Linked DNA regions of Homo sapiens: region 1 is linked to region 2. The links come from fine-mapping of genetic effects on gene expression. A gene starts in region 2. The other region holds a variant in brackets. All regions are shown on one strand. Distances are from middle to middle. Region 1 has its middle 44 kb from the start of ZMYM1. Region 2 holds the start of ZMYM1 (zinc finger MYM-type containing 1).

Region 1 (5,377 bases), 43 kb before region 2:
GTCTCATCCTATACGTGAAGTAGTGTAATATCAATTGAAGGTGAATATGTATACTACATACCTGAAAGCAACCACTTATAAAACAAACAAACAAACAAAATGAAGTGTTATACTAATGATAAGAAAGGCGATAAATATATTTATTTATTTTTGGAGATGGAGTCTCGCTCTGTCACTAGGCTGGAGTACAGTGCCACAATCTCAGCTCACTGCAACCTCCGTCTCCCGGGTTCAAGTGATTCTCCTGCCTCAGCCTCCCAAGTAGCTGGGACTACAGGCACACGCCACCACGCCCAGCTAATTTTTTGTAGTTTTAGTAGAGACGGGGGGTTTCACCATGTTGGCCAGGATGGTCTTGATCTCTTGACCTCATGATCCACCCGCCTCAGCCTCCGAAAGTGCTGGGATTACAGGCTTGAGCCATCGTGCCCGGCCAGAAAGGAAAAAAAAAAAAAAAGAGAGAGAGAGAGAGAGAGAGAAAGGGGAACAAAGACACATTGGTCGAATAGAAAACAAATAGTAAAATGGTAGATTTGAGCCAGGTGCAGTGGCTTACGCCTGTAATCTCGCACTTTGGGAGGCTGAGGCAGGCAGATCACCTGAGGTCAGGAGTTCAAGTCCAGACTGGCCAACATAGTGAAACCCCATCTCTACTAAAAAACCACAAAATTAGCTGGGATTTGTGGTGCATGCCTATAATCCCAGCTACTCAGGAGGCTGAGGCAGAGGTTGCAGTGAGCCGAGACCACACCATTGCACTCCAGCTTGGGTGATAAGAGTGAAACTCCGTCTCAAAAAAAAAAAGATGGTAGATTTGAACTTGATCATATTAATAACCACATTTTTTTTTTTGGGACAGCATCTTGCTCTGTCACCCAGGCTGGAGTGCAGTGACACAATCTTGGCTCACTGCAGCCTTGACCTCCCAAGCTCAAGCGACCCTCCCACCTTAGCCTCCCAAGTAGGTGGGACTACAGTGCATGCCACCACACCCAGATAATTTTTTGCTTATTTTTTTTGCAGAGACTAGATCTCACTATGTTGCCCAGGACAGTCTTGAACTCCTGAGCTCAAGGGATCTGCCCACCTTGGCCTCCTGAAGTCCTGGGATTACAGGCATGAGCCACCATGCCTGGCCACATTAGATATAAATGGTCTAAATACCCCAATGAAAAACCAAAGATTGTCAGATCATACTGAATAAAAAAAGACCCAATCATATGCCACCTACATAAAGGCCACCTTAAATATAAAAATAGACATAAATTAAAATAGGCTTATATTTTGATAATATAATAATTAGGTGTGTACCCTTATAATAGGGGACAGTGGCTCATACCTATAATCCCATGTTTTGGGAGGCCAAGGTGGGAGGATTACGTGAGGCCAGGACTTTGAGGCTAGCCGATGCAACCCAGTGAGACCCCGTCTTTACAAAAGTTTAAAAATTAGCCAGGCATGGTGGCACATGCCTATAGACCTAGATAGGAGGCTGAGAAGGGAGGATCACTTGAGTCCAGAAGGTTGAGGCTGCAGTGAGCCATGATCATGCCTCTGTACTCCAGGATGGGTGATAGAGCAAGACCCTGTCTCCAAATAATAATAATAATGTTGGCTGGGCGCAGTGGCTCACGCCTGTTATCCCAGCATTTGGGAGGCTGAGGTGGGTGGGTGGATCACCTGAGGTCAGGAGTTCGAGACCAACCTAGCCAACATGGTGAAACCCCATCTCTACTAAAAATACAAAATTTAGCTGGGCGTGACGGTGCGTGCCTGTAATCCCAGCTACTCAGGAAGCTGAGGCAGGAGAATCGCTTGAACCCAGGAGGTGGAGGTTGCAGTGAGCCAAGATTGTGCCACTGCACTCCAGCGTGGGCGATAGAGTGAGACTCCATCTCAAAAAACAAATAAACAAAAAGACATACCTGTTCTAAACACTGCACACTTAATAAAGATTCAAAATACACAAAGCCAAAACTGCTAGAACTGCAGGAAAAATAGAGAAGTTCATAATTAAGTTTGGAGATTTCAGTATCCCTTCATAATCAATATACATTTAAATAACTCATAAAGGAGGAATCAAAAGGAAAATTAGAATTTTTTATTTTTTTGAGATGGAGAAATGGACAATTTAAAAAAT[T/A]TTTTTTTTATGGTTAAATATTACTTTTATGTTTTAATTAATGAATTAATTTTTTTAAATTGAGATGGAGTCTTGCTCTGTCACCCAGGCTGGAGTGCAGTGGCGTGATCTCGGCTCACTGCCGAACTCTGCCGCTGGGTTCAAGCAATTCTCGTGCCTCAGCCTCTGGAGTATCTGGGATTACAGGTACATGCCACCAGGCCTGGCTAATTTTTTTTATTTTTAGTAGATGAGGGTTTTGCCCTGTTGGCCAGGCTGGTCTCAAACTCCTGACCTTGGGTGATCTGCCCACCTCGGCCTGCCAAAGTGCTGGGATTACAGGCGTGAGCCACCATGCCCAGATACTTTTATTTTTCTACCTATTTTGGTTTAGGACAGATGCCTCTGACTTGAATAGACCATCAGAGATGTGTAACATTAATTTTAGAAAACCACTCAGAGAGCTCCCTTAGGAAACAACACAAGTTTCTGCTTTCCCACCACCCATGCTTCTGGACCTGTGCTCGCAGAGAAGTCCTCTGTTATCAGGCTGGCTTCATAAGTCAGTCCCAGAATCTTTGAAGGCATGTTGATGCTGAAATGGAAAGGGTTTCAGTGCAATCTCTTCCAGCTTCATAGATGAAGCCCTAGGACAGAAGTAAACTTTCCTATTTACAGCAGGTCCTTGAATAATGTTTTGTTCAACGTCATTTGGTTATAACATTGAGGAGAAAAAAATCTGACTCCTGGCCGGGCCACTGTCTGTTTGCATGTTCTCCCCATGTTGGCGTGGGTTTTCTCCAGGTACTCCCACATCACAAAACTGTGCATGTTTGGTTAGTTGGCATGCGTAAATGGTCCCAGTCTGAGTGTGAGCGTGTGTATGAGTAAGCCCTGCGATGGGATGGCTTCCTGTCCAGGATTGGTTCCCGCTTTGCACTCTACGCTGCCAGGATAGGCTCTGGCCACTCATGACCCGACCCTGCACTGCTTATTCATTTCCGTGATGTTTATCCAGACTTTGTTCAAACTCATCTCTCCAGATTCAATCTTCTCAAGTTTTTTTTGCTTGCTGAATAGTTCTTCATTAAGTTTGGGGATTTCCTGGAATGAGCTTTTCTGATTAGATTCCATTGTTCGAAATTTTTCCTTGAGGGCATCCAGATCCTCCTTGAGAGCAACCTGCATCCACACCAAGCCAACACAGGCCACAACACAGGCAGAGAGGGTGACAAAACCACAGAGCGGATAGCAGATCTTGCAGCATCGTCAATAGCCTCCCTTGGCAAAGCGAGAGCGATTTCCAACCACACCGAATTCCTCTTCCTCCTTGGAGCTGGACTCAGAGTCTAAGTCAGGAGGCTCAGGGCGAAGCAGGCGGTGACTGCTTGGGCTTCTTTCTCTGGCTGTCCCCAGCCAAACCAATCAATACATTGAGCTCTTTGGGCATTTTCATCTTCTTGTGTGGGGTGAGTGGAGCCCCGACTCCTGAGCTGCCAGGTGCGCACCCGACGCCCAATTCTCTTCCTGCGTTAGAGCTGCCTTCCAGGGTTGGGGATCCTGGGCCAGAGCCCCCTAGTCACTCCGCCAGGGACTGGAGATTGGAGCCCAGAGGAAGCTGGAACTCAGATGGGTGGGGGAAGTCACATAGAAATGGCCAAGGAGCTGATGACCCCAAGGATAAGGGCTGGTGGGCAGAGCGTTAGTAAAGAGGGTGGAAAGGGACCTTTATCTCCCAAAGGGCGAAAAAAGCCAAGTCAAAAATGAAGGATTCTCAGCCCTGATGAGTAGGCAATACTTCTAAGGGTGCTGCTCCAGGAGCTGGGGAAGGGCACACAAAATAGATGTTTTGGACCTCCGGGGCAGAATTTTCAATGGAGAGGGAAGAGAAACTTATTTATTTATTTATTTATTTATTTTTTCTTTGAGACGGAGTCTCGCTCTGTCGCCCAGGCTGGAGTGCAGTGGCACGATCTCCACTCACTGCAAGCTCCGCCTCCCTGGTTCACACCATTCTCCTGCCTCAGCCTCCTGAGTAGCTGGGACTACAGGCGCCTGCCACCACGCCCGGCTAATGTTTTTGTATTTTTAGTAGAGACGGGGTTTCACTGTGTTGGCCAGTATGGTCTCGATCTCCTGACCTCGTGATTCGCCTGCCTCGGCCTCCCAAAGTGCTGGGATTACAGGTGTGAGCCACCGCGCCCGGCCGAGAAACTTATTCTTGAGTGGGAAGAGTGGGGAGGTGCAGAGCAAGAACGTGGGAACGCGTCAGTCCCTTCCTAGCAGAAGAGGTGGCGGCAGGAGGGAGCTCCCAGCAGCTACAACCCCAACACTGCTTGGCCGCGGAGAAAATGCCCAGGCCAGGAAGCCGGCTGGGGTGTGTGATGATCACCGTTCTCTGGCCTCTGTCCTGAAAGTGAAAGGGGCCCGAGGCTGAGAAAGATCCGGAGCCCGGCTCTAAGGGCTCATCCTGAGAGAAGCCAGTCCCGCGCCTACGAGACCTCCGCCCCGCTGTCTGGGCCTGGGGGTCGCCGTGCGGCGGGCTACGGCTGCTCAGCCAACCGATAGCGCTTCCGCCTGGAGTTTGAGGTCTCAGGCAGGGGCAACTCTCAGTCACTCAAACGCGCAGGCCCTACTCTAGCCGCAACTCTGGCCCCTGCTCCGGCTCTGGCCGCGGCTGCTCCCTACACGTTGTTGTTATTGTGGGCGGTGGAGGCCGCGGGCTCCAGACCCAGGCCATCGCTCCGGCCCCATATTTTTAAAAATTTATTTATTGAGACAGTGTCTTACTCTATCATCCAGGCTGGAGTGCAGTGGTACAGTCACAGCTCACTACAGCCTCGACCTCCTGGGCTCAAGCAATCCTCCCACGTTTGCCTTCTAAGTAGCTGGGACTACAGGTGCGAGCCACCACGTCCAGCTTTTTTTATTTTTTGCAGAGACGGGGTCTCACTATGTTGCCCAGGCGCTTTTAGCTTGTTTTGAAACATCATGTTAATTTTCACCTGTTTGGTAGGGATTTACTTTGCTGTTTTCTATGCAATTTTGTATTATATTTCATAATCTTTTTCTGTTGCTTACTTTCACGTGAAATGCATTTTCCTGTACTTATTGGGAGAGACACGACAGAATAGCTTTTCTAGCCTCAAGGCTCATGAAGTTCTATTATTTTCAGAAAGTGACTAAAATAGCCTAATACTTTGAGATGTTTCCTCTGCTTCTCTCTCACTTCTGTCTATACCTTTTCTTTCTTTTACC
Region 2 (5,377 bases):
TTCAGCAGAATTATAGGATAATACAAGATCCGCATTTTAGAATTTTTCTTATCACTTATCTTCAACATTGTAGTAGAAGTTCTAGTTAGATCAATAAAGCAAGAAAAAATAAAAGACAAACTTTGAAAAGGCAGTTAAAATTGTTATTATTCATGGATGACATGATTCTATACAAAGAAAATTCAAAAGAATCTCCAAGTTATTAAGCTTAGCAAGACATTCGAAAATAAATTTTGGCCAGGTGCAGTGGCTCACGCCTGTCATCCTAGCAATTTGGGAGGCAGAGATGGGTGAATTACCTGAGGTCAGGAGTTCAAGACCAGCCTAACATGGTGAAACCCGTATCTACTAAAAATACAAAAGAATTAGCTGGGCATGGTGGTGGGCACCTGTAATCCCAGCTACTCAGGAGGCTGAAACAGGAGAATCACTTGAACCTGGGTGTCAGAGGCTACAGTGAGCCGAGATTGTGCCACTGCATTCCAGCCTGGGTGACACAGTGCGACTCCGTCTCAAACAAACAAACAAAAAATCAATTTTATTTCTTTATACTAGAACAGAAAAATATAAAAATAACCATTTTCTGCAGCATCATAAATATCAAATATAGGAATAAATCTAATGAAAGCTATTAAAGAACTCTACAGTGAAAACAAAACATTGCTGAGAGAAATTAAGGAAGATCTAAATAAATGCTCATTGATGGAAAGAGTCAATATTAATTTTTCTCCTAATTAAGCTGTAGATGAAAATCCCAGCAGGGGTTTTTGTGGAATTTGTAAGGTAATTCTAATGTATATACAATGTGCATACAGAGCCTAGCATAACCAAGACAATATCAAAAAAAAAAAATGTTGGAAGGGCTTATAAAGCTACAGTAAATTAAGATAGTGTGGTATGGACACAAGCAAAAACAAAACAGAGTCTGGAAGCAGATATACTCCTATCCCTTATTTCTTCGCATTATACCACTTCTTTATACATTACACTTTGCTAAGATTTATTTTATTCGGCCGGGCACGGTGGCTCCTGTCTGCAATCCCAGCACTTTGAGAGGGTGGATCAGCTGAGGTCGGAGTTCTAGACCAGCCTGGCCAACATGGTGAAACCCTGTCTCTACTAAACAAAAATTAGCCAGGTGTGGTGTAATCCCAGCTACTTGGGAGGCTGAGGCAGGAGAATCACTTGAACTGGAGGTGGAGGTTGCAGTGAGCTGAGATCGCGCTACTGCACTCCAGTCTGGGAGACAAGAGTGAAATGCTGTCTCAAAAAAAAAAAATTATTTTATTCAACTGAGTTCTGCAAGGTCTTTTACTAGCCTGATGGGAAGGCTGGAGGCAGAAGGCTATATGTTTTTCAAACCAAACTAAAATGTCCATGGTTAATTCTGCAGGCAATGAAGAGCCATCATTTCCGAAGTGCCTTGGTACCGGGTTACACTGATGAGTAGGATGTCCCAACCAGTAAGTATATACAAGGTACTGAGAAGAAATGAAAAAAGAAGACGGTCAGTCTTCTGGGAGGTGAAATTTGAGCTGGGTTTTAAAGTGTCTACCAACCAATGATGGCGGATATTCCTGGTATAGAGACAGCATGTACAAAACCACAAATAGCCGGGCACAGTGGCTCAAGCCTGTAATCCCAGCACTTTGAGAGGCCCAAGCAGGTGGATTGCTTCGATTCAGGAGTTCGAGACCAGCCTAGGCAACATGAAGATAACCTGTCTCTACAAAAAATACAAAAATTAGCTGGGCGTAGTGGGGAGCACCTGTTGTTCCAGCTACTCTGGAACCTGAGGTGGGAGGATCGCTTAAGCTCGGAAGGCTGAGGCTGCTTGTGAGCCGTGATCGTGTCACTGCACTCAGCCTGGGCCAAAGAGCGAGACCCAGTCTCCAAAAAAAAAAAAAAAAAAAGAAGCACAAATATATGGGAACTAGAAGGAGTGGGACTGTTGTTGCAGATAAAGTACAAGTGCAAGAGTGCTAGTAGAAGGAACTGGAAAGTTTGAAAAGTAGACATGGGTCATGTCAGGAAGGTCCCTGATACCAAATACCTTAAAATTAATCTTGTAAATCAGCAGCGTTCAAACTGTGCTTTTGGGGTTCAGCAAACATTTCATTTTTTTTTTTGAGACGGGGTCTCGCTCTGGAGTGCAGTGGCACGATCTCGACTAAATGCAACCTCTGCCTCCCGGTTCAAGCGATTCTCCTGCCTCAGCCTCCTGAGTAGCTGAGATTACAGGCGCCTGCCACCAAGCCCAGCTAATTTTTGTACTTTTAGTAGAGACGGGGTTTTGCCATGTTGGCCAGGCTGGTCTCGAACTTCTGACCTCAAGAGATCCGCCCGCCTGGGCCTCCCAAAGTGTCGGGATTACAGGCTTGAGGCACCACGCCCGGCCAGGAGTCAAACTTTTGAAAAATCACTGCTCAATGAAGGAGAGATACAGGTGTGATGGGGCTTCTGAAACGGAGGCTGCGGAGCGAGACTAAAGTCTGAAGGCCCAGTTACTACACAGGAGCAGGAGGCGGCGAGAATCGCTGGAAGCGGGGAGCACTAACCCCCCCAGTCTATGAGGGCAAGGTTAAAGGAGGCGGCAAACACAATCCACGTCAGGGCCTGGCCCGGAGTTCCCGACCCCCATCTGGCGGAATCCGCACTCAAAGCTCCGTCTCTAAAACCCCGACCCGGCGCGTCATCCTCCCTCCGACCGACAGCAGAAACCCTGCCCCTTTCGAGTAAGGCGCAGGAGTAAAGACCGAAACCAGAGCCGCATGAGGAGGCTTACTAATTTCTCTCAGGGACGCCCCGCCCAACGCTTCTGAAACAATCTTCGAAGCGAAACGGCCCCGCCGACCCCGCCCCTCTCCCGTCGTGCTCTGCGGTTGAGCATGCGCAGGGCCGCTGGCTCAGGGTGGTCCCAGCTCCCTGAATTGGGAAGAGCGACTTTGGGATAGAAGAAGTGGGAGAGGGGGAGGGGAAGAGTCCTTACGGCCCGCATAGGATCTTACCCTTGAAGTCGTCGCTGGCTGGCAGCCAAAGTAGGACCCTTGACTCAGAGCTCAGGCAGGGCAGTTAGATTTCCTGGATTTGAGAGATGGCTTTACTACTTATTAGCTGTGTGCTAGTAAGCGATTTGACAACTTCTATAAATCTCCATTTCTTCGACCTTGAAATGGGGATAATTGTAGTGGCTGCATCGTAGGTTTGTAAACATTAGGCAGGCTTCTGCAGAAGCTGGACTCAAAAAAAAAAAATATGACAGGCAATGTTAGCAAAGTGCCAGTTGCAGAGTAAATTCCTAGTAAAAGGAAATTATCCTCAGAGGTAGGGAGGGAGTTCAGACTTCTTTCATTAGTACGTTAAAATTAAAATGACCCCAGGCTGGGTGTGGTGGGTCACACCTATAATTCCAGCACTTTGGGAGGCCGAGGCGGGTGGACTGCTTGAGTTCAGGAATTCAAGACCATCCTGACCAACATGGTGAAACCCCGTCTCTATTAAAAATACAGAAATTAGCCGGGCATGGAGGCGGGCGCCTGTAATCCCAGCTACTTGGGAGTCTGAGGCAGGAGAATCGCTTGAAGCCAGGAGGCAGAGGTTGCAGTGAGCTGAGATTGTACCACTGCACTTCAGCCTGAGCGACAGAGAGAGACTGCGTCTCAAAAAAAAAAAAAAAAAAAAAAAAAAAAATTAAAATAACCCCAAACTGCATGTCAAAAATAATGGCATATTTTAAATGTTTTTTGACAATACTTTCAACACCTAAAAAAGTATAGGACGAACTAACTGTGCTATTCCTAAAGGCATAAGAGGATTCTAAAATATATATATAAGGTTGAATGATGAACTTATTATAATCATATTTGACAATTACTTTTAAAGGAGATATTCTCAAAAATCTAAATTTGAGGCCCTTGTGAAGGTGAGGTCCAGACCAAAAGGGCCTCCTAATCCTTGCTGCTATGGTCCTTAAATATCCTTTGGAATTAGCCTCAAATCTAATATAAACCCTTTGGTAATTTGAAATATTATACGAGTAACTGAAGTTAATTTCTCCAACATTTATTATTACCTTCTAATATTCATAATAATCTGTTTAGACTGTTAGGATTAGAAAGGACCTTACTGAAATGATCTCTCCTCTAATGCTCCCTTCCTACCAAAGGAAAAGCTGAAGGCAAGAGGATAAAGGTAATTTGCCCCAAGTTACACAGCAACTCAGTGACTGGGATTAGATTGGAACCCAGAAATGAGTCCTGGTTCAGTGGGCATCCAAAGGCAAGTGATGTCATTGTAAATGCCCCGTGGGTTCACCTTGCCCGCTACCTAAACACAGTCCATTTATCAAGACGGGGAATTGCAATAGAGAAAGAGTAATTCACGCAGAGCCAGCTGTGCGGGAGACTGAAATTTTATTATTATTTAAATCAGTCTCCTCGAGCATTTGGGAATCAGAGTTTTTAAGGACAACTGGTGGGTGGGGGGAAGCCAGTGAGCCAGAAGCGCTGATTGGTTAGGTAGGAGATGAAATAATGGGAAGTTGAAGCTGTCTGTCCTCATGCGCTGAGTTAGTTCCCTGGTGGGGGCCACAAGATCAGATGAGCCTGTTTATCTATCTGGGTGGTACCAGCTGATCCATCAAGTGCAGGGTCTGCAAAATATCTCAAGCACTGGTCTCAGGAGCAGTTTAGGGAGGGTCAGAATCTTGGCCTCCAGCTGCATGACTCCTAAACCATAATTTCTAATCTTGTGGCTAATTTGTTAATCTTATAAAGGCAGTCTAGTCCCCAGGCAAGGAGGAGGTTTGTTTTGGGAAAGGGCTGTTATTGTCTTTGTTTTAAACTATAAACTAAATTCCTCCCAAAGTTAGTTTAGCCTATGCCCAGGAAGGAACAAGGACAGTTTAAAGTTAGAACCAAGATGGAGTCCATTAGGTTAGATCTCCTTCATGGTCTCAGTCATAATCTTGCAATGGTGGTTTCATCGTCATTACTAACTTCCTTGGGAGTTGAGTTGAAAAAATGGTAGGATTCATGATATCATAAAAAATTGTAAGGATGTGTGATAATTTTGAGATGTGATATTCCAACCACCCCCAGTGATAGATCTGAAAATTTGGCCCAATATTTCAAGCAGTAGATGTAGGTCACAAGTTTCATGCGTCTTTCTTGCCCTGAAGTCTCAATAGTTTATACTGGCTGAAAGATTAAGTCCTAAGGAATAGGAGGAGAGCTCTGGGAGATAGGAAGCTTGATTCATTCTTTTTCTTTTCTTTTCTTTTTTTTTTTTTTTGAGACAGAGTTTTGCTCTTGTCACCCTGGCTGGAGTGCAATGGCGTGATCTTGGTGGCTCACTGCAACCTCTGCCTCCTGGGTTC

Evidence for each region.
Region 1: its variant is fine-mapped to the expression of ZMYM1 in whole blood (TOPMed, PIP 0.98).

The regions. Positions count from the first base shown.
Region 1 is chr1:35,120,220-35,125,596 of GRCh38, reverse strand. It overlaps the pseudogene EFCAB14P1. Among named protein-coding and RNA genes, the nearest start is that of ZMYM1, 44 kb to the right of the region's middle. RefSeq lists an enhancer at 4,504-4,623. The variant T/A (reference allele first, on the strand shown) is at 2,141.
Region 2 is chr1:35,076,851-35,082,227 of GRCh38, reverse strand. It overlaps ZMYM1 (zinc finger MYM-type containing 1), which reads right to left and starts at 2,843. Exons shown (of 10, transcript NM_024772.5): 1 at 2,786-2,843. RefSeq lists an enhancer at 2,418-2,936.